Regions from separate parts of the Homo sapiens genome. Here region 2 is linked to region 1. The links come from fine-mapping of genetic effects on gene expression. A gene starts in region 1. The other region holds a variant in brackets. All regions are shown on one strand. Distances are between the middles of the regions. Region 1 holds the start of MIR3945HG (MIR3945 host gene). Region 2 overlaps ACSL1 (acyl-CoA synthetase long chain family member 1).

What was found. PIP is the estimated chance that this variant, and not a neighbour inherited with it, causes the effect. A credible set is the group of variants that fine-mapping cannot tell apart.
Region 2: its variant is the best candidate, but not a certain one, in a credible set for the expression of MIR3945HG in whole blood (INTERVAL, PIP 0.50).

What each region holds. Positions count from the first base shown.
Region 1 is chr4:184,848,764-184,860,656 of GRCh38, forward strand. It overlaps MIR3945HG (MIR3945 host gene), which reads right to left and starts at 6,889. Exons shown (of 3, transcript NR_132989.1): 1 at 6,706-6,889; 2 at 1,732-1,836. MIR3945 (microRNA 3945) reads right to left here and starts at 2,347; the gene lies at 2,250-2,347. RefSeq lists a silencer at 659-728 and an enhancer at 1,797-1,866.
Region 2 is chr4:184,769,073-184,780,965 of GRCh38, forward strand. It overlaps ACSL1 (acyl-CoA synthetase long chain family member 1), which reads right to left. Exons shown (of 21, transcript NM_001995.5): 5 at 11,260-11,361; 6 at 7,812-7,911; 7 at 7,412-7,590; 8 at 4,771-4,803; 9 at 4,591-4,642; 10 at 4,009-4,082; 11 at 1,327-1,404. Among named protein-coding and RNA genes, the nearest start is that of CENPU, 41 kb to the left of the region's middle. The variant G/A (reference allele first, on the strand shown) is at 6,495.

The DNA of each region.
Region 1 (11,893 bases):
GTATCACTTCTGCTGCGGTCACAAGACGACATCCAAATTCAAAGAGAGGGAGCAAAGTGTCCTCTCAGTGGAGGAGTGTCAGAGTCACCATAAGAAGAGAATGTGGGAAGGGAGGTATTATTGTAGCCAATTTTGGAAAATACATGTAAAACTCTTAACGCATGAAATACACAAAAACTCTAATCAGGCATTAAATAATAATATAAATTTAAAAAAAACACAAATTTCATTATATATCACAATAACCTTTCAAATAGGCAAAGCAAATATTATTTGTATTTTGCAAATAAAGGAACACAACTGAGAATTGGAGTAGAAAGGTGGATTTGCAATGAATTTAATGAAGTTTTCACTTTTAGAGCCCCTCACTAGCACTGACACCTTCTTCCGAGGCCCCAGAGGGGACCCAGAATTGTGTTCACATGGTCATATGTTTCGTAAATGTTCAGAGGTAAAGTATCTTTACTACAACTAGTTAAGTCTGCTGTACCTTCACTTCAGCCTCCCTTCCATCACATCCCCTTGCGTCAGGTGTTACTGGGCATTTTGGAGACCCAGCTAAGGGGAAATTGAGTTATAGCTATATTTAGTTTTGGTGGAGTAGGTTATAATGATGTGGTTTTCAGTAACTTCAACACATGGTTAAGTTATTACTGGGCACCCCAGTGTAGAAATGACTTCCAGGAATACTCCTATGGCTTACTGACTAACTCAAACAGCATTGTGACACTAAAGTCCAGGACCAGAGGTCATACTGTGGTATGACTGTATCTCCTAGTACCCAGAATTCGCATGAAAATATATGGGTAGTGGAGAAAAACAAGGTTTGAAAAGTACATCGCCAGAAGCTAGTCTGTGGAGAATTCTTCCAATCAGATATAAAATTACAAGGACAATACCTTTGTGTATAGTTCTGGCTTTTAAAATCTTTTTAATGTTTCACATATTCAAAGAACAAACTTAAAATGAATAAGGTCCGGCAAGGTTACAGGATTAAGAGCAATGTACAAATATTAATTGTATTGTATACAGTAGCAATGAGCAAACCAAAAATGAAATTAAGAAAGTAATTTCACTTAAGATAAAAATTCTAAAATACTTAGAAGTAAATTTAACAAAGATGTACAAAACTTATACTGTGAAAACTACAAAGCTTTGTTGAAATAAATCAAAGAAGAAACCAAATAAATGTAAAAACAGTCTATGTTCATGGATTGGAAGATTTAATATTCTCAAGATGTCAGTGTTAACATAACAAGATGTGTGTTATACTTTAGTTTTTAAAAAATGGCCAAAAACGTGGTGGGATAGTTGAATATGATTCATCCTTCCCAGACCCACATGACCTGAACACTGTGATGCGTTATAATGGCAGGGAGAGGAATTTTGGATTCAACCTGATCTGAATTGGAACCCTGGCTTTATTATTTACTAATGTATGTCTTTCCTCATTTTTTCTTGATGTTGCTGGTTCTGATTTTCTTCATTTGCTCAATAAGGATGATAAATAGCTACTCCTCAGGGTTGCTGTGGGGATCAGATATGATACGAGTAAAGGGCTGGCACTACTGGTTTCCTAAACCCAACTCCCTTCCATCTTGCCCATGTCCCATGCAGGTATTGGAAAACCCAAGCATTGACTCTCCAGACCAGCCTCGCACCTAAGAACGCCGTGGGATGCAGTTTCAGACAGTGAGAAATCTGCTGGGGATGCCTGGGAAAGGGACATACCTGGCAGGTGCCGCTCCATGGCCTTCTTGCTGCCTTGAATTGGGACATGAGCCTGAGTCGCAGCAGCCGTCTTGTGACTGAGAGGTGGCAAGCAGGAGGAAGAGGCTAAGAGAATAGAGACACTGTTGAGCTGCTGAAGCACAGCAAGCGGCCACTTCTCTATGCTTCTTGCTATTTGACTGTTAAGCTAGTGCAAGTTACTTTTCTGGTCAGAATGAATTCATAACTGAAACATGCTTTAAAGTATGACTATTATTATTAAATGCAGCATAAGCTTTCCATAGCTGCTACACGATCACACCCACTGCTGTCTCAGACTGACCAGTGGCCGACTAAACATGACAGCAAGTACTGTTGCCAGCCTCTGCCTTCTTATACTTGTGGAGTTTGTTTAAATCTAAATTCAGGACTCACCCTGTTAAATTTTATCTCCTTAGCTTGTCCCCTTCTTTTCAGAGATTTGCAATTCAAATTAGTATTATAACCTCAATTGATATATGGCTGTGGACCAGTCAGGAATCATTGAATCATCCCCCACTTTGGAAAGCATAAGAGGCTGTAATTGCATTTTATATCAACCCTCTCCTATGCCCTCCCCGTCACGTGCATCAACATCTCTTTTCTCTCAGAAAGACCTCATCTTATTTGAGGTGATATTTGAGTACATAGTTCCTTTTAGGGTACTGGGGACCTTTTTGGTGGTAGGGTGGAGAGTGTGCACCACAGAGACTAGTCACCAAGAGTCCCTGCAGTTAAGTCTGCGTATCCTGTGCTGGTGAAGGGTGGATGGGCTTTATGCAAATCTCTGCTTGGCTGCAGAATCTCCCAGTGAGATGAGCAAGGGTGCTTTGCAGTCAGTGTTGAAACCCCAGAAGAGCAGGAAATGATGCTGTTCCTGCCCAAAGGCAGAATGAAATGCAAGGAAAGGAGAAAAACATTATGACATAAGTATTAAGAAAGATGCTGTTTACGGGAACTCTGAAAGACTGGAATTCAGAGCCGCTACCAATTAAGAAAGTTAATGATGACTTGCAGCAGGTTTGCAGAAAGTGAAAGGAAGGTGAGGCTATTTAATTGCCACCATAACAGAAGAACTTGTAGAAAATAGGAATGGGATCACAATCATTATTAACTCATAAAAAATTTATAGGGTGCCATTTCTAATACGACACTGTGCAGGGATACTGCAGTCTAGCGTTACCTCCAGTTTAGACAGGCTGAAATACATACAGTTTCTCATCTGTATGAGATAAGGTGATATAAAATGAAGCTGATCGGGCTAGTTTATTGGATAAAACCAACAACGAAGGGAAATAAGTAACTATTTATACAACATGGTAACTATCTACATTGTTCATTAGCAGACGATGTTTGTAACTGGAGATGAAATGCATTAAGCATGTTTGGGAAAGGAATAAATGGGATGTAACCATGGAAGTCCTATGCTTAACCAGGGTGGGGAGGGGGGCAGGGATATAGAGAACTTCAACTAGACAGGCCTGGTGGAGAAAGTGTGTGTCTAAGAATTACTTGCAAAGTGAGCTGTGTCAGGGAGCATCCTGGTGCATGCTCCAAGATATGTTGGATAACAGTTGAGTACAACTCATGATGGAATTACAAAACTCCAAGATACAGTTGGATAGTTGGGTAACAGTTGAGCATCACCATGATGGAAGAGATGAAGAGACTTTTTGAATGTGTTTGAGAGGAGTGAAATGAATCCTACAATGATAATAATAATAATTGCTATTATTTTTTCAGACACGTGTGAAACCAGAAAAAAATAAATTAGGTGAAAGAATCTTCATTCCTGGTGACACCTTAGAAGAAGAAACAGACAATCTTGGATGGATTTGTTAAAGATCAGAGGATCCATAATGTCATGCAAAATGGTGGGATTGGGGGCAAACAGATCAAGTTGATGAGTGGGGTTAGCAACAGTGAGACCTGAAAGAGAAAACAAGTTAACAGAAGCCAGACTAAGTGCAGGACTAACCTGCACCCTAAGAGGGTGCAGGCTCAGGAACCAGTCCATGAGGAGTTGCACCATAGTAAGGGGTAGAGATGAACTGAAGCTCGCTCATGATTACCAGCGGTATTGGCCTCTCCAAGAACTAAAAATAACCTCCTTCTTTGTCTTGCTGTTACTTCCAAGCCACAGCCGAGTTCTCTCTCTATACTTACACCTCAGATGAATGAGCAGTGCCTGTGGCTGTGGCCAGTGTCTTTTATTCCCACCTGGTTCCTCCCAGTCTGTGTTCCATGTTGTCACTGCCCCAACTGCACAAGCCTTTTCCTAGTCCTCAATCTTTTCTCCCCACAGCAGCCCTGGGCACAGTAGACCTCCCTAGCCTTTTGAGGAACCTCTTCTGTTACCTGACTGCTGTGGTCTACGTGACCATCTTACCTCTTCCTCTGCATTTTCCTTGTGTCTGTCACTGACTCTCTCCCGTGTCCCGCTCCCCAACTGTGGGTGCCCCAGATGTGTCAATCCTCATTCTCCGATCTTCTCTCTTTATACTAGATTCTAATTCACCTTTATTCATCTATACTCCCAGAGTCAAGTTTTGATTATGTATATATAACCAAATGGCATATAACTCTATCTATCTATCTATCTATCTATCTATCTATCTATGCCATCTCATTTCATGTCTTCACGAAATATCTGTTAGCTGTTTTTCTCCAGATTATCATCCTTCCTTAAGTGCTGTTGTGGTAGCAGTGGTGGTGGTAGTAGCAGTAGTAACAGCAACAACCTCTATCATATAGTAAATGCTAACTATATCTCAGGTGCTTTAGTAAAATCTCATTTAAGCCTTTCAATGTTATACATTGATATTGCTGTTGAACACATTTTATAGAGGAGGAAACAATCTCAGCAGGTTTAACGGTGGTTCCCAGTCACACAGCTAACACAGAACACGGCCTTGAACTCAGATTTTGTCTGACTAAAGTTTGTCATCCTATTTCTGTGCTAAAGCTTCTACAGCAGTCCCTGTTGCTTACCAGGTGAGGCCCAGCATCCTCACGGACCATCCCGGATCTCCGTAACGTAGCTCCACTGATCTGCTCCAGTGACTGCCTTCTGCTCCCAGAGTGGCACCTCCTTAACCACCCTCACCTTCCTACGCAGTGAATGAAGTGCAGACATGAATCCTGAGTCTGCCATTTAGTACTTCTCTAAAACTGACTTCTTGTATTTGTAAAATACCCGCCTCACAATCTCAGGATTGCTGTGAGCATCGTATATAATGAGTGCAAAGGGCCCGGCATAGTGCAAGGGACATGATAGGTGCATAACGAATAGGACCCACTGAGGCTGTTACTCATATTTCTGCTCTTGTGCCTTGTTCGTGTTATTCTCTACATATGAAATGTTTGTACTTCCTATTGCTCTGGCCTGACAGTCCTTAAGGGCTAAATTCCATCTTTACTAAATGTTTCCTTGGCTCTAACACACATTGATCTCTCCCCTCCCCAATTCTGAATGCACTTTCTTTTTTCTTTTTTTTTTTTTTGAGACAGAGTCTCGCTCTGTCGCCCAGCCTGGAGTGCAGTGGCGCGATCTCGGCTCACTGCAAGCTCCGCCTCCCGGGTTCATGCCATTCTCCTGCCTCAGCCTCCCGAGTAGCTGGGACTACAGGCGCCCACCACCACGCCCAGCTAATTTTTTGCATTTTTAGTAGAGACGGGGTTTCACCGTGTTAGCCAGGATGGTCTCGATCTCCTGACCTCGTGATCTGCCCGCCTCGGCCTCCCAAAGTGCTGGGATTACAGGCGTGAGCCACCGTGCCCGGCCCTCTGAATGCACTTTCTATATACACCAGGTGGCTGGTGTTATCTACTGTCTTATTCTTGAATGGCTTTGGGTAAGCGAGCCTCATAAGTTACTGGTGAGCTTGCTTGTATTGCTTCTGTGCTCCTCTCAAAGCTACTGGCACACTGTACCAAAGTGATTTGTTCATTGATTGATGGAGAAATGTAAACATTGGGACAAATCAGAGAGAAAAAAGGGCAAATTGGACATTATCTTGTTCGATTTCAGTTGGCAGTCAATGGTTTGTGTTCAAATTATCCTACAGAGGCTTGAACCAGGAGGGGAGGTTCAGAAAACAGATGGTGGGAAAGAGAACAGATCTCTGTATTATGGAGCTTTGACTTTAAAATTATTTCTCTTAAAGAAGAGATAGACCCAAAAGGAAATGATCTGAGATAAATTTCCAGGGACCAGTAAGACAGAAGTACCACTAAATATGAAGAGGCAGTGGACTGGGAATAATGAGAGAAGACCCAGGCAATCATGCCTGTAAGTTACGATAAAGAAAACAGGAAGCACATTTCGACAGAAAAACCATACTTTACATTAAAGAAGTGAGATTGTGTCTGTTGCAAGAGTGAGAGGGAAAGCCCGCAACGACCTCAGGGACCCAGTGAATTAGCTCACGGGAAGCCCAGGGCCTCTTTTGCTAGCTGCTAATGAAGGGAATTAGATAACCATGTTATTTTGAAAGAAAACAGATTATGTTTATTGAATGATCTAAAAGAAGCGAAAAGGGCTAGGTAAAGATGCCATGTTTTGGATTCTGATGTTGGGTCACACCAGGGCGCCCATTCTTCTGTATTCACAAAATGCCCAAATAGGGAGAGGTCTTGCCAGGCGCGTGAACTCGCCACTGTGGCTGAGCAACAAAGGTACATTGAAAGGAAGCGTGTGTGTTTGTGGCTTTGAGCCCCTTTTCCTATTCTGCTGAAGATTAGGAAATTATAGGTTATACTGCTTGAAATGAAGACAGAGTAAATGGTAGGAGGGTTGTAAATCACCTGCGAAGCACCGTCTTCGACCATGCCATATAGCAAGGCTACCCAAAACACTCCAGTCTCTAATTTGTTCAACTTAAAGAATAAGAGGGATATGTCAGTCAGGACCTGCTAACTGCTGTATCAGACAACCCCAGATCCCTAACGACTTACCTCACAGTCATCAGGGGCTAGACAAGTGACCTTCCACACGATAATTCAGAGATACTGCTCCTTTCCTGTAGTTCTCCAGTCCTCAGCACAGGGTCTCAAGATCATCTAGCATCGACCAGTCAGCAAATGTCGGAAGAGGAAAGATAGCTTCCTTAGTCCCTAAGAGACAGCATCTCGTTTTCACTACATTCCACTGGTGAGAACTACTCATATGGCCACACCTAGACACAGCGGTGACTGGAAAGTTAATTTGATTGTGTTTCCAGGAAAAGGAGATAGGCTTGGTGAGTCAGTCTCTCTAGAGGAAAATATGGAACTGGGTTGGATTAAAAAAAATCCAGGCTGGGCGCGGTGGCTCATGCCTGTAATCCCAGCACTTTGGGAGGCCAAGGCGGGTGGATCACCAGAGGTCAGGAGTTCGAGACCAGCGTGGCCAACATGGTAAAACTCCGTCTCGATTAAAAATTAAAAAAAAAAAATTAGCCGGGTGTGGTGGTGGGCGCCTGTAATCCCAGCTACTCAGGAGACTGAGGCAGGAGAATAGCTTGAACCCGGGAGGCAGAGGTTGTAGTGAGCTGAGACTGCACCACTGCACTCCAGCCTGGGTGACAGAGTGAGACTCCGTCTCAAAAAAAAAAAAAAAAAAAAAAAATTCAGGTAATGATTTATATGTTTCTATCAAGCAATATGCCTATAAACATGGAATGATTGAATTTTCAGTTTCAAATACATGTTTTGGGTTGTGAAGACTCAAAAAGCTTGTGGGTCTCTTTGTTTTTGTCAAAGTATATGAATAAACGAGGATTGCAGAAGTTTACTTGTGGAATGAATGCATTAGTAAATTAATGAAGCTTTCTCCTGTACTGAAAGAAGAGTATAAGGTCATGACTCATGGTCATGAGGTAGGAAATAATTCTGCTCACCAAGAAACAAGGACATTTTAAATATCTAAAAAAGCAGAAATGAGAAAGGAAGCATGAAAAATAATCATTTAGCCAACAGTTACAGCACCTACTGACAGACAGAAAGTACAGGGCATTGACATAGTTTAAATCCAGTGACTTCCGTTTTTCCTAATAGAATCAGAGTGATAATGCATTTTAAAGGTTATTTTTATTATTTCATGTCTCCAAACCATTTTCAGAGGGAAATTATCATGGCTGTCACAACAGTAGCTTAATACACAAGGTTGATGGTATTTTACAAAAGTGTCACAAGTGGATTTTAAAGTTAAAAAAAAAAAGGGGGGCTGAGTGCAGTGGCTCATGTCTGTAATCCCAGCACTTTGGGAGGCTGAGTCGGGCGGATCACCCGAGGTCACGAGTTCGAGACCAGCCTGGACAACATGGTGAAACCCCGTCTCTACTAAAAATACAAAAATTATCCAGGTGTGGTGGTGCGCGCCTGTAATCCCAGCTACTCTGGAGGCTGAGGCAGGGGAATCACTTGAACCCTGGAGGCAGAGGTTGCAGTGAACTGAGATTGCACCACTATACTCCAGCCTGGGTGACAGGGGGAGACTCCATCTCAAAAATAAAAAATAATAAATAAGGTTAAAAAAAAGATCAGTATGATATAGCTTATATGAATAGAAAAGATGATTCTCGAACAATAGCATGAGGCATATGAGTTGAAAATAAAGCCTAGAGGTCTTCACCTACAGCAGAGAAAATTTTCACTCTCCCCCACCCCACAGAAGACAGACAGACCTACCCCAAAATTAAAATGACATTAGCCCCATAAGCATGTTTCCCTCCTCAGGTAACAAAGAAGATACCTCAGTTCTAAATCCACACAGTTTTAAAGATGTCATATATTTAATGCTCTTTTTTTTTTCTTTTTTTTTTGAGATGGAGTCTTGCTCTGTCACCCAGGCTGGAGTGCAGTGGCACGATCTTGTCTCACTGCAACCTCTGCCTCCCGGGTTCAAGCAATTCTCTGCCTCAGCCTCCCGAGTAGCTGGGATTACAGGTGCCCGCCACCACATCCAGCTAATTTTTGAATTTTTAGTAGAGACGGGGTTTCACCATCTTGGCCAGTCTGGTCTTGAACTCCTGACCTCGTGATTCACCTGCCTTGGCCTCCCAAAGTGCTGGGATTACAAGCGTGAGCCACCATGCCCGGCCTAATGCTCATTCTAACTAGAAGGAAGTAAAGCCTCAGAACAGTAAAATGATTTGCCACATGTCACAGTTGCAATAAACAGTTCAAGTCCACTCCATAAAGAGATACTAGCAATCCTACGGTTTGTCGAAAGCCAGGCTTCTCGGATAACAAAATATTCTAGGTTCTTTGACAAAATGGGTGATGGGAAGTAAGGAGGAGGGCCTAGTTTCTGAAGCTGCAGGTCATGTAAGGAGCTTGCCCTCAGGCTGGCAAGGCCTAGGAATGGGGGGTGCAGGCGGCCTTCAAGTGCCTGGGGGCCAAGAGGAAGTGCTGCTGTCCCCTGAAATCTTTTTATGGGAGGAACTGACACTGTGGGTCTGTTCAAGTCCCCAAAATGGGGACAGGCTGGGGGCTGAGGACACAGACTCAAGGCCCCTCATTGGCAGTCATGGCCAGGCCAAGGAGCCCAGCTCAGGGCTGCTGGCTTATTCTCAAGCCCCCCAGGGATGTGAAGAGGGGTGCAGAGACTCACGTTTTGCACCCACGGAGTCCAGGACTGGGGTGTTAGAAGTGGGGTAGATTTAGTGGACACAGCAGATCAAGTGCATGTGAAGAGCGCCGCAGCAGCTCTGCATCTCCCAAAGGTCCCAGCTGGTCCTCTGAAGACCCGGGATCACAACTCCACATCGTCACCTCGGGGTCCCAAAGGTCCCAGCTGGTCCTCTGAAGACCCGGGATCACAACTCCACATCGTCACCTCGGGGTCCCAAAGGTCCCAGCTGGTCCTCTGAAGACCCGGGATCACAACTCCACATCGTCACCTCGGGGTCCCAAAGGTCCCAGCTGGTCCTCTGAAGACCCGGGATCACAACTCCACATCGTCACCTCGGGGTCCCAAAGGTCCCAGCTGATCCTCTGAAGACCCGGGATCACAACTCCACATCGTCACCTCGGGGTCCCAAAGGTCCCAGCTGGTCCTCTGAAGACCCGGGATCACAACTCCACATCGTCACCTCGGGGTCCCAAAGGTCCCAGCTGGTCCTCTGAAGACCCGGGATCACAACTCCACATCGTCACCTCGGGGTCCCAAAGGTCCCAGCTGGTCCTCTGAAGACCCGGGATCACAACTCCACATCGTCACCTCGGGGTCCCAAAGGTCCCAGCTGGTCCTCTGAAGACCTGGGATCACAACTCCACATCGTCACCTCGGGGTCCCAAAGGTCCCAGCTGGTCCTCTGAAGACCTGGGATCACAACTCCACATCGTCACCTTGGGGTCCCAAAGGTCCCAGCTGGTCCTCTGAAGACCTGGGATCACAACTCCACATTGTCACCTTGGGGTTGTAGACCCAGGCAAGTTGTTTGTACTCATGACGGTGCAGCTCCTTTTTTTGAAAGGGGGGAATAAGACAGCTGATCAGTAGGCCAGACCTCAGTGAGCTCACTGTGTGCAAAGTTCACACCTGGAGCAGATGGCAGAGTTGCTGGAGGCTCAAAGGCTCTGAGGCACGTGGAAGTGGCTTCAGGGCAGGGCAAGAGAGGCTGTTACACTTTCCAGTCACCTCCTCTCTGGCACCAGCAACCCATTCTTCCAGATTTTTCCTCACAGTTCCATTATACATTTTCTCCCCATATGATAAAGTGTTGGGTTAGACTGAGGCCATTAAGAAAGGGCTACCTACCTAGATAATATCATAACCTCTATCTATTTAAGTAAAATGTTACTGAAATGTTACTAACAGTCAACATTATTGAATCTTTCATCAGTTGCCAGGTTCTATGATAGATGCTCTTTTTTTACCTTCATTACCCCTCCTTCGGTAACCCCACAACCTGGTGTCTATGACTAGCACCAGTTTACAAATGGGGACACTGAGACGCACAGAGGTTACAACCATCAAATGGTGGAATTGGGACTTGAACTCAGGAAGCCTGAGCTTTATAACCTCCAAACTACATAGCCTTCCTTAGAGAAAACTACTAGATCATGAACAAGTCAGAACAGAGAGTAGAGAAGAAATTTTCCATGGAAGAGCTGATAATTGGAGATTTTGGGGAGAGGGAGATGAAAAGAATTGAAATGGAGAAGAAAAATCCGTTTTTGTGGGGGAAAATATAGAAAGTAAGATTTGTCTTGGAATGAGATTAAAATGAAACCATCAGAGCTGGTTTTATTTATTCATCATATACTCATAAATTAAACATCCATTCATTAGCTAAAATTAAACATCCTATCAGCCTTGAGGGGACTCACAGTCCAAAAACCAGATGTTCCTACACTTCCAAAATCTAGCTCAATGATGAGAGAGGTTTCTGACAGAGAGGGAGTGGAAGTTACTGCCTAAAATAGATCCCTAGGCCAAGGGATATAGAAGAATAACAGTAGCCAAAGATGCCAGGGACCATCGTGTGGATCTCTTTCATCTCATACTCCTGGGGCGCAGGCTGCCAGAGATGAGAGAGAGCTGTGGGGTCTGAGGGATTCCTCCTATCTCCGCACAGAGGAGGTGGGGCGTGGGGCGGTGTCCCTTTGCAGCCATGATCAAGGAAGCAGAGTTTCATTCATCTGGGTTAGACTGCCTCTCCTAATATCAGCCAAGATCAGACAAGAATGAACAAAAACTCAGGGTCAATTAGTTGGGTATGGAGAGGAAATGTAGAAATGAGGCCACTGGGGACTTTTTGCATTGCAAAGCCCTGAAATTCTCGGTTTTGCTATGTTGCAAGAGGAGCCCCAAATTAGCAACGATTTCTTGGAGGAAAGGTGCCCAGCCCTTTCATTTATTAACCTCTGCCTGATATTTTCAGACAGCTTTTCGAATCTCTAGGAGGGTTATGGCCTGGTATAAGCAGAGGAGGGGTCAAGACAATTATCCAAGAGCTATTGCAGGACTATTGTTAAAAGAATAAAAATCCTAGCACCAAAAAAAGAGAAGCTCTGGATCTTTTGAACACCGATGTAAACACCCACTGGGTGGAGTGAGGGGGACTGACAGATCACTAGAGTCCGGATGCCTCTGGAAGCCAGAAAGCCCAAAGCATAGTCGGGAGACAGCAGGATGGCGGACTGAGCAGGCGCCACT
Region 2 (11,893 bases), 80 kb before region 1:
ATATATATATATATATATATATAGCCTTCCAGAAACTTTACATTTAATTTATTCTCAAAATAAAAACTTAACTTCTTGCCTAGAGTCCAAGTTTGTTAAAGTCTCACTTTCTTTTGTTTGAATCTAACTAGAAGTTTCTGAAAGGCCACCAAGTATGATGAATTTGTGACACCAGGGTATCTAATACCAGAGTGGCTTGCCATTCAGCTAGAATACACTGCATGATTTTTTTCCTGTCTAGTACAAACCATGCTGGCAAGCCATATGGACCTGACAGTTTGCCTATTTTAAAATTTAAAAAGAAAAGATTCAAAAGATGACACAAGGGAAGTACAAATGTTCTCTGTCTTAGAAGCAGAAACCACGAGAAAGGTACACCATGGTTCACTGTTTAACAATTACAGCTCAGAAAGCTTTTGTTCAGCGTGGCCTGCCTTCTAGGCACACCTCTAAAACTCGTTAGGTACAGCAACTCATGTGAGATTGCTTTATAAACCCAGAAGACTCTGAGGTGTGCAGGAAGTAGAAGGAACAGATGGCAGATGGGATCTAATCGCCTTCGATCCTTTGGGATGAGCAAATCCGACAGGGCAGCTGTCATCCAAAGCATCGGCTGATAGTCACCTCTGTCTCCAACACAGCAGAGGGCACACAGCTAGAGCTCAGTAACTACTCACTAAATGAATGAATGGTGCTCATTGTTTTTTCCTACAGCATAAAATCCAAAATTGTCAAAGAAGGAAAAAAGGTGGTTCTTGGTCAGTTTTAAAATTAGTCACACAGTTGATTACAGGGAGCCTAGGCAAAGGTCAACTCAAGGATCATCCTCTTTCTCCAAGGGCACTTAGAATATTGCTGAAAAAATTAGTCGCAAGCCAACTTGTGCATTAGGAACAAGCACAATCAAAAATAGAGACTTCTCACAGAACGGAAGCCTCGCTGGGCTTTGTAGAACTGAATTAATAATGACTTTACCTTTATAGTTGGTTTTTCTGGACTCATGTCCACATTAGTATCCTTCAAAAGTCTGAACTCCTAATTTTAAAATGAGTGATTAAATTCCAGTATCCTGTTCATACTCAGAAAAAGAATTTATATTCTTTCAAATAATCTGCACCATTTCTAAAACGGGGCTGAGCAGAGAATTCTCTATAGGGATGACAGTCCGCACGCCACACTTACCTTCAATAACTGTTCATAAATGTGAGCAAGTGGTAAATATGAAATGTGTGTGTCACTGGCACTCAAGGGAAGTGCTTTCTGTAAAACACAACAACTTAGCAGAACATACACAAACAAGCAAGGAAAACAAAATTAAATGCCTACCTCTACAACTCTCTCAAACATATGGGCGAGAGGCAAGAAAGATATCAAAGTATCATCTGGGCAAGGATTGACTGTATTCTGTAAGCAAAGACACCAGCAAGGCAGAAAAGCATTAAGACTCCCAGTGAAGGGGAACATCGCACACCAGGGACGGTTGTGGGGTAGGGGGAGGGGGGAGGGATAGCATTAGGAGATATACCTAATGCTAAATGACAAGTTTATGGGTGCAGCACACCAGCATGGCACATGTACACATATGTAACACACCTGCACGTTGTGCACATGCACCCTAAAACTTAAAGTATAATAATAATAAAATTAAAAAAAAAAGACTCCGAGTAAACTTCCATTTTATTTCTGAGCACATAGTACCTCAACACTGAGGAGAAACGGCTTTTGCTTATGGTCTGCAATTTCTTCTCACCAAAGAATAAAATGAAAAACAAGGGGCATGGTGGCTCACGCCTGTAATCCCAGCACTTTGGGAGGCCAAGGCAGGCAGATCACTTGAGGTCAGGAGTTCAAGACCAGCCTGGCCAACATGGTAAAACCCCATCCCTACTAAAAATACAAAAATTAGCCAGACATGGTGGCACATGCCTGTAATTCCAGCTACTCAGGAGGCTGAGGCAGCAGAATTGCTTGAATCAGGGAGGCGGAGGCTGCAGTAAGCCGAGATTGCACCACTGCACTCCAGCCTGGGCAACAGAGTGAGACTCTGAATCAAAAAAAAAAGCAATACTTTAATTATTCAAACAAAGTGGAAGTCACTCCCCATGACAAAGTAAATCCACTTCAGGGCTTTAATCAAAACAAGGAAAATTTTGCTCAAATTGGAAGGTTAAGGGATTATATGCTCTAATCAGTTAGTATTTCATCACTACAGTATCCTAGTACCCAGCAAGTTCAATTTTACCTTAAGAAATACAGGACCCATTTCAACATAAAATTGCATTTTATGTTGTTAAGGGAAAGGAGGAAAGAAGATAAAAGAAGGTGGATTTCCAAGGTCCTTAGAGTATTTTGAGTTTGATCAATATTTTTAATACCTTAAAGCCCTACTTTACATATCACAATTTGTTTAATGCAACCTCAGATCTGGCACCCAGGAATTTGCTCTCCTATAAAATGCTGATCATGATGGGTCCACAGACAGATTAAGTTTGGACATCTGGTTTCCCTCAGAATGGGCCTTACTTAGGGCAGGCACAGTGAGGGTTTGTATAGAATATTCATGTTATTAACATAAAGAATTCTGGCCAAAACAGGGGGTGTGCAAGAGCAGCTGCTGTCATACCAACTAAGAAATGAGGGCATTGTCGTTACCTAGGGGATGATATACCAAGTTCTGAGCCATGCCCCTTCCTTTCCTAAAGCTGGGTCACCCTTAATAATAATGTGACAATGGATGAAAGCATCAATCCTGAGCAAACACAGCAGCCCCAGAAGCACTGGATGTGGGCTGAGCATGCTATAATCTCAGCTGGATTTTATTCAAGTCTGACAGGCATCCCAAGTAGTACTTCTCAGGATGAAATTGTTATATTAATATAATGAGAAATCGGACTCCATTCTATCTATACTTTTCAACTTTCTGACTCAGAACAAAAATATTGTCCATTATCATGATTAGACATCTTACAAAGCTGAGAAGATACTGATATTGTAATTGATTTGATATTGTAACTGACTTTAAACAAAGTTCTGTAATCATTTGCCTCAATGAGCCACCAATGCATTTTAAGTTTTGTTTGAAGGCCAATTAGGAAATTAAAATTTCACTTTGGTAAGGTACTAAATGTTGAACTCTGTTTAGAAAGTATACATCTTTAAAAAGGGCATTTGGAAAGTGTGAGCCAAGTAAAGTAAGTGGCAAGATCCCTCAAAGATCAGTTTTCTGCAGCCACCAAACATGTCCATTCCCCAAAGCCATTAAGCTCAGGCTCCTGCTACAAAAATCAGAGCTACAGAATACTTCCAAAGAGACTGCAAAAGCCAATTATGTTAAATGTAAAAAAGAGTATAAGGAAAAGGCATATGGTTCAATAAGCACCTTTTTAAAAGGCAAGTTTGGAATAGGCTGTTGGTGTTATGGACTGAATCACATCACCCCCTTCTAAATTCGTATGTCAACATCCTAACTCCCAATGTAGATGGGGCCCTGCTGTGACTGGATAGACTAAGACACTGGATAGTAAACTTTAAAAGCATGGGAAATTAGCTGAAGTGCAAGGCTTTACTACTTCTAGTGCAATGGAAGTCACACTGACCACAACAGATAATAATCATTCAAAAACTTTTAACATATCATTGCCAATTTAAAATAAATTATTTCCCAAATACAGGGACGCTGGATAAAAACACAAGAGAGTCCATCTCTTCTCTGTCCTTTCTTGGACATGTTTCTAGGGCAATATCCAAATAGAGTTTCTCTATATAAATGTTGCAGTGAACTTCATCTGTCAATTCACCTTAATTATCATAAGGCAAGGGTTGGCGATTAGGTTCAAAGTGAAAAAAGAGAGAAGGTGGACTTGGGCCTAAAGTTCTGACCTTACCCATATGTCACATCGTTTCTAAATGCCACATGGACCTAACACACTGGTGCCCACCTTCAGCACTTTCATTCTCAAGGACTAATGTCAATCAATGAGGAAAGATGACGACATCCCAAAAAGTTACCTCTGTTGCTTTCACAAAAGCTGAACAATCGCTCACTATGTTTCGGTGAGTGACCATTGCTCCTTTGGGGTTGCCTGTGGAGCACATATGAAGCAGAACAAAGTTAAAGAATGACAGAAATGAAGGAGGCCCAGAAACCTCACATAATTAGGGCTTCAGACACCTCTACTGTTAGATATATCGTGAAAACCAAATGTTGAACACTAAATTCCTAAGCAACCTGCAATCCTTACACTGACTTATCTTTAAAAACCTTTATTAATATGGGCACATTTTAAAGGGTATATACGTAGTCATAAGAGAAGAAAAACCAGAAATTTTCTTCCTGGGAGCCACCGATATAGTCTGTCCTAGGAAGACAGGTGAATCTAATATCACCCTCAATAAATGTTTGAGGAATTATCCGGCACTCTTGGACTCTGAGAAGATCTTACAGAGCAACAAGAAGACAGCACTTGAACCGCTTCCTTCTCTTCTGCTTTTGGTCCGTCTACTGTTAGCTGATAAGTCATCCAAAAGAGGTAGGGGAGAGTCCAGACCAATGGCTGCCATATGTAGAAGCAATTCTATCTCAAAACTCACCTGTAGTTCCACTTGTGAAACAAATTACTGCAAGATCTTCAGGTGCTGGAGGCTAAAGATTAAAAAAAAAAAAAGCTGGTATAAATCAGAACAGAAAAGAGAACTATAAGCCACAAGGTACCAGGCTAGATATTGAAAACTACAAAGAGGACAGAGCAGGGTCTGACACGGTGTGCTTACCTTGGGCTTCCGTCTGTTGGCTCTTCCCAGGTCCTTAATTAGAAGAGAAAAAAAGTCTTAAATGGAAACGTTTTCTAACTGTAAAGGATAAGGTCACATCGAGTCACTTAAAGCTGGCTTTACTGTGGGGTTCATTCACACCTGGCTCGAAAACAGCATAATTTTCTAATTAAAGAAACTATGGCAGTTTTAATTAACCAGAACCAAAATATTTATTCATTGTTCTGAGAAGCCATTTTCCAGTTACCTCTTCTCTTACATAAAACTACATAAACGGTATTAGGACTGGTCTTTGAAATAGGATGTATTAAAAAAACAGCAGCCAAAGTCTTTACCATGCATTTCTGGTCCCCACTTCCACTTCTTATTAGGGCCTTTAATAAAGCCCTGTTCTTAACCATAACGAGATACTGCAGATACTTCGTAGGTTCCTCAAATCAGAGCACAGCACTACCTCACCCCCACATTCTGCACAACTGACATCTGCAATCTGGGAAGAAGAAAAATCAATCTCTGCTCGATTGAAATGCTAGGCATTTTGGAGAGGCTCAAATATCTGCTCAAATATCTCCCCTCGTAGAGTGGAGATAGGATTTGGGAGCCCCCAATTATAAAACAGGCCACAGCAGACCCTCTAAGACTCCTTCCTGAATGGACTTGAAGGTTAAGAATGACAGAAGCATTGCGCGGGGACAGCATTTCCCAGCGGCAGGCTTCCAGTCACTACCACTGATGGGGTTCGGTTTACTGCATTAGGGCAGTCTTGGTGGCCACTTTAATATCTATTAATTTTAACAAATGAACTATTTATATTCTTTTCCTATTCAAATGGAACAGCTTGAATGAGGATATGGAATGAACATGCCATTGAACACGCCATTGAACATGTTCAATTCACGTGGAAATTAGATGGGTGTGCTCAGGGCTTAGTGAGTTTCTGCCCAGCATACATTAAGTTTTCAATCTTAATTACATTTTAAATGATGTAGTGACAGACCACCGATTAAGAACAGGAACTAATATATCCAATTAGAGGTCAGCCAAAAGCTAAAGCAATAATTCTGTACATTTTTTTCAAAATAACCTTTATTAGCTCCAGATTTCTATTTGTCTATTAAAAATTCTTACATAACTTCTGGAGATGCCCAATTCTTCAAAAACTGATGTTAAATAAAATAAAGCACCAGTTACATACAATTTGGCTCTTAATTTATTGGGAACAAACATTATCCAAATTAGTGCACTGTTGCCGCAAAAGTTTCACAGCCTTACATCTCTCTTACAGTATCACTTAGGAAAAATACTGCAATTATTATTATTTTTTGAGATGGAGTCTCGCTCTGTCACCCAGGCTGCAGTGCAGTGGGGCGATCTCTTCACCTTTTGCTCAGAATATTTTTAAAAACTAAGTACAGATCATATTAAACAGGTAAGTGTAAAACAATGTCTTCTATAAATTAATATTTTAATATAAACTTTATATTATAATCTTCAATCAACTAAATAATTTTTAAATTTCAACATTACTTCTTTATCATACAGCAGTCAAAAAACACCAGAAAAATTCTTGCATCTGTGGGAAGGTAAGGGAAAAAGAGATTACATTATAGTAAAAGAGGGTTAAAAGTAAAAAAACAGAAGTGGGGAAACACTAGGTAAGAAGCTATAAAACCCCAATTCAACAAGGAAGCACCCGGGTCAGCACTTGCGGAATCACGTTCGAT[G/A]CTACTGAGAGAGAGAGTTGGGCAGGGGCGCACACATGCACAAGAGAGAAGGTTCTGTTAGAACACCCGCGCTTCCCTGTGCCTACTGGGTTCCTCAGGAAAGGTTCTACAGATCCTTACTTATAGCCTCAAATTCTTTGTAGGAGGAGGAAAACTACACATAAAAATTTAAAATCCTATCTATAACAGTTTCAGAAAAATATTTCTAACACCTTCAGAAAGAGAAGGACTGACTCTGTTTTCCTATGACTTGTTATGATATGTATATGAAAAGATCTTCCTCCGGCCATGTTCCTTGGATGGAACTCTAATCCAAGTCCAACTGACGGGGATCAACTTCTTATATCATCTGACATCAAGCACCCAAGCTGAGCATGGACCACCACGCTCATTCTCCTGGAATGGCTGCCTTTAAACTTGTGATTGGTATGACTCTTAAGAGTCAATATGAAAACAAACCAAATCAAACATGCATGTTGGAAATTCACCAAGACTCTCCACGAGCCATCCAGGGAAAAGAACGATGAGGCTGATTTCTATACTTGGCTTGGCATTAGAGACAAATTAGTAAGTAAAAGGCATTAAAGCCCAAAGGAGACACAGAAACTGAAAGTTCCACCTGCCTGAAGCTGTAATTCCCATTTCTGGCATTTCCGGGCACAGCTTGTCAGTGCTCTGGAATAAATATTGGAGTGCTGAAAGCACTTGGGTAAGGTGTGAGGTGTTAACACTGGGCACACATGTAGAATCCTTTTTCCAGCAATGAGACAGAAGTTTCTGCTCTCTTTCATGGGTTGCGGAGGCAACCGGCCAGCGCTGGGACTGCACCATAGCACTAGATAGCACTGGATAGCACGTGTGAGCCAACACGGCCCCAGGGAAAGCCTTCAGAGAAGGGAAGGAGGCAGGGCACTCACCTCCATCGCCTTCATGCTGGTGACTTCCACCCCACACCTCTGGCCTCGTTCCACCAGTTCACTGCCGTAGGCATCCATGACAACTATGATTTTAAGGCCTGGTATTAACTTATTTTCTACACCCTCTAATAAGAGTTTGGCCTTCTCTGGCTTGTCAACAAAAACCAGAGAGAGTTCAGCTGTAAATGAAGAGATACAATGAAGAATAAGCTCTGGGATGTTAAAAGATTCACTCTGTCATATCCAGCACAAGGATACTTGAAGTACTACATTCTTTGAATAAAAAGGTAGATATATATTTACATGTAAAATCTTTGTCAAATCAAATGTAAGCAAATGTAAAGTCACTGAACCTAACCAATAACTATGCCAATAATCCAGGCAAAGATCACAGACGTACCTTTGTTGACTATGTACGTGATGGCTTCATTTCCAAGGGTATCATAAAGTGGAACGATCACCATCGAATAAGCAAAGCATCCTTGTTCAATAATCACCCACTAAACAAACAGTAAAGGTCAGGGAGAGAAAACAGGATGTCATCATGTAATCAATAAGGAGAACAATACTCAAGAGAGATTCAAAGTGAAAACATTTGACGCAGCAAAATTAACATCTGTGTTAGCTACTACTCTGTGCCAGGTGCTATAAGGGATTCAGAATGAGAACAAAACACATGCCCCCTTCTTAAAAAGAAATTAAGGCCAGGCACACTGACTCACACCAGTGATCCCAGCACTTTGGGAGGCCAAGGTTGGGGGAATCAGTTGAGCCCAGGAGTTCAAGACCAGCCTGGGAAACATGGCAAAACCCTGCCTCTACAAAAGTTATCTGGACATGGTGGCACACACCATGTCGCAGCTACTTGAGAGGCTGAGGCGGGAGGATTGCTTGAACCCAGGAGGTTGAGGCTGCAGTGAGCTGTGATCACACCAGTGCACTCCAGCCTGGGTGACAGAGTGAGATCCTGTATGTATGTATGTATGCATGTACAAAGAGAGGGAGGGAGGGAGGGAAGGAAGGAAAGAGAGAGAGAGAAAGAAAGATGAGAGGACAGAGAGAGAAAGAGGAGAGATTGAGAAAGAAAAGAAAAAAGGAAGGAAAGGAAAGGAGAGAAAGAGAGAAAGAAAGATAAATTAAAATCCGCCTGAAGAATTGAGGCAAATATGTTAAAAGATAATTAGCAATAATTATCAGACAGGGACTGACCCAGAGATAAGAAAGCCCACCATCGGCCAAGGTAGCTACAGATGCTACTGGGAGGGTGTAACTGAGATTGCCTTTGGAAAGAGAAAGAAAGAGAGAGAGAGAGACAGAGACAGAGGGAGGCAGGGAGATGCTAACAGAGGGGATGGCAGGATCAAAAGCAGGGGTAGTGAGAGCGATCTGACTGGCACAGATGGTTCTGGCTGGAGAGCACGGAGCAGCCACTGAGAGTTTCTCAGCAAAACAGCGGCTGTGGGGCTCAAGGAAGACCCCTCTGGCAGCAGGGCACTGTATGCCCTGGAATAGGGGAAGAAGTACCTTGTCTAGCAGCAAAACTGTTTTGATAAAATCCCTCTAGAAAAGTGCAGGAAAGAAGTGAGACAATAACTGGCCACACTGCCACATGCAAGATGCAGTAAGATGTGTCTGAAGGCACTGGCCACATAGCCACTGCCCTACCTACTGGACAAAGGTGAAAGATCACTCTTTCACTACCATACCCAGGGGTACCCCACTGCCTCCGGCTGCACCTTTCTAATGAAATCATCTGCAGAACTCTGACACACAGGACAGAAAAAGGCACAGCCGGGGGAAGGGGGCACAACCCACTCACATCCACTTGGCCTGGAACTAGGCTTCTGAGTTTCGGTTTTTTCCCAGAAGGAATTTTCAGCCAACAACATAGAAATCAGGTCCCAGCTCCTTAGGCACATGTGACGCATGAGGAAGGCTGTCTTTCCTGCCACTCCACCACATGAAAATGCTCCACTCCCAGACACAGGTGTGAACGTGGGCATTCCCTTGGCCTCCCCGCCCCTATTTCCTTCAAGATTCTACTCAGGTGCCACCTCCAGGGAGCCCTCCTTGACTGAGCTCCCATAATCCTTCTGCCCTGCGCCCACACTTACCACTTGACAGAGAAAGCACCGGTGTTTAGGTCTGTCTTGCCTTACGTGGTACCTCAGGAAGAGAGGCCGAGTCACTGTGCTTTGGCACCCCAACACAGTGTCTGACATATAGTGGGTGCTCAGCAAACATTTGTTGAATGAACTCATAAATACAGGAAGGAACCTATTTCTTATTTGTTTTGCAGTTCTAGATTCATGATAAAATTCCATCAAAACAAACATTTTGATGTGTTCATTTGGGATGAAAAAAACTAAATTCTACAAGCCCAGTCACAGTCCAGCTGTGGAGAATGCTGTTTTCCCCTTGAAAGACCACAAAACTCTAAGAAGCCATCTTTATTTATATAAAAAAAAAAAAGTCAGTAGCACAGGGATTGAGTCAGCATGTCTTCTGGACACAAGCAGGTATAAGAATAAATTCGATTTCTTCAAGCCAGATGCTTCCATTTTTCTAAGCCAGCTAGATCTACTAATCTATTGAGTCATACCATAAGCAATACTTCCAAAAGAGCTGCTCATTTAAACTCAGTTTCTGATATGTTTTGGCTGTGTCCCCACCCAAATCTCAACTTGAATTGTATCTCCCAGAATTCCCACGTGTTGTGGGAGGGACCCTGGGGGAGGTAATTGAATCATGGGGGCTGGTCTTTCCCATGCTATTTTTGTGATAGTAAGTTTCATGAGATCTGATGGGTTTATCAGGGGTTTCTGCTTTTGCTTCTTCCGCATTTTCTCTTGCCGCCACCATGTAAGAAGTGCCTTTCACCTCCTGCCATGATTCTGAGGCCCCCCCAGCCATGTGAAACTGCAAGTCCAATTAAACCTCTTTTTGTTCCCAGTCTCAGGTATGTCTTTATCAGCAGCATGAAAATGGACTAACACACTTTTACACACTGGTTTACAGAAACCGTGCTGGGCTTAGACCACCAATGACAGACTGCCCAAAGGAAGGCTGGCTAGCAGTGAGTACTGTCCCCATCACCCATGGTATTTTAAACTCTAGAAACCAACCAGAGGGAAAGCCTCATACCTTTCAGAAAGGAAAAAAAGGAACCTGCTATTGACAAAAATGTATCTGAGTCTCTCTATAACTTATTAATGCCATTTTTCTAACCACAGAGGTGACTCTTAAAGTAAAAAGACTCCTTTGTTAGTTATCTGTTCTAAGGATTTTATTTGGGAACCTGGTTTAAAAAAACTAAAATAATCCCCCCAAAAAAGTGATTTCTTTTTTCTCTTAAAGGCGATTAAAAGGCCCTGGTTCAGGTTTTCCTTTCTTTTTTTTTTTTTTTGAGACGGAGTTTCGCTCTTGTTGCCCAGGCTGGAGTGCAATGGCACAATCTTGGCTCACCGCAACCTCTGCCTCCCGGATTCAAGCGATTCTCCTGCCTCAGCCTCCCGAGTAGCTGGGATTACAGATGTGTGCCACCAGGCCTGGCTAATTTTGTATTTTTAGTAGAGATGGGGTTTCTCCATGTTGGTCAGGCTGGTCTGGAACTCCCGACCTCTGGTGACCCACCCGCCTTGGCCTCACAAAGTGCTGGGATTACAGGCGTGAGCCACTGTGCCCAGCGGCCCTGGTTGAGGTTTTCATATGTGTAACTTTCTAAGGTGTAACGTAAAGCTATACTTTTAGTAGAAATCAGACTACAAAATCTGGTCTCTAGCAGAAGTTAGGCTCTTATATCTGAGAATTCTCAAAATCATGCATAGCAAGTACCTACTGGTTCATACCTCAGGTCTATTTTGAGCAAAGATGCCAATGAACTGATCTGGGGCAGTCTTGAAGCCCTTCTGGATCAGTGCTGAGCCTATGCACTCCGACAATTCTGCAACCTAAAATGGAGAGGAAAAAGTCAGAAGCAGCATTGGGCCCCAACTCCAGAAACAAAGCTGACCAGACGGCAGGCTTGTATCTCAGCCAGCAAGCAATGCTGCACACAGAAACGGAGAGGGAACATGCAGGTATTCCTTTATTGATAGATTTTTTGGTAAAACACAAGGTTTTATTCACAAGAAATCAGAATTAAGAGAACTGACCGCAGGGTTCCTTCTGCAAAGAAAATTAATCTTATCCCAATGGCTGCAGGTCACAGACAATTATATGGCAGGGCTATTTATACATTTTTTTCTATTTTAGTTTTATACAATTTTAAAAATGATAGAGAGATGGATTTGTTTTATTTATAAAGCAGCCAAAACTTGTTTATTTGGTATAAACACAGAAACAGCAACTTTTGAGAGACCTATAAAAAATAAGAGCAAGCTCTTATCCTTAAGTTCTACAGTTCCATTCTTGAGAACGTATTCTTAGGAAACAATTCAAACTCAGGAGGAGGTTTTTAAAAGCCTACATACAGGCCAGGCA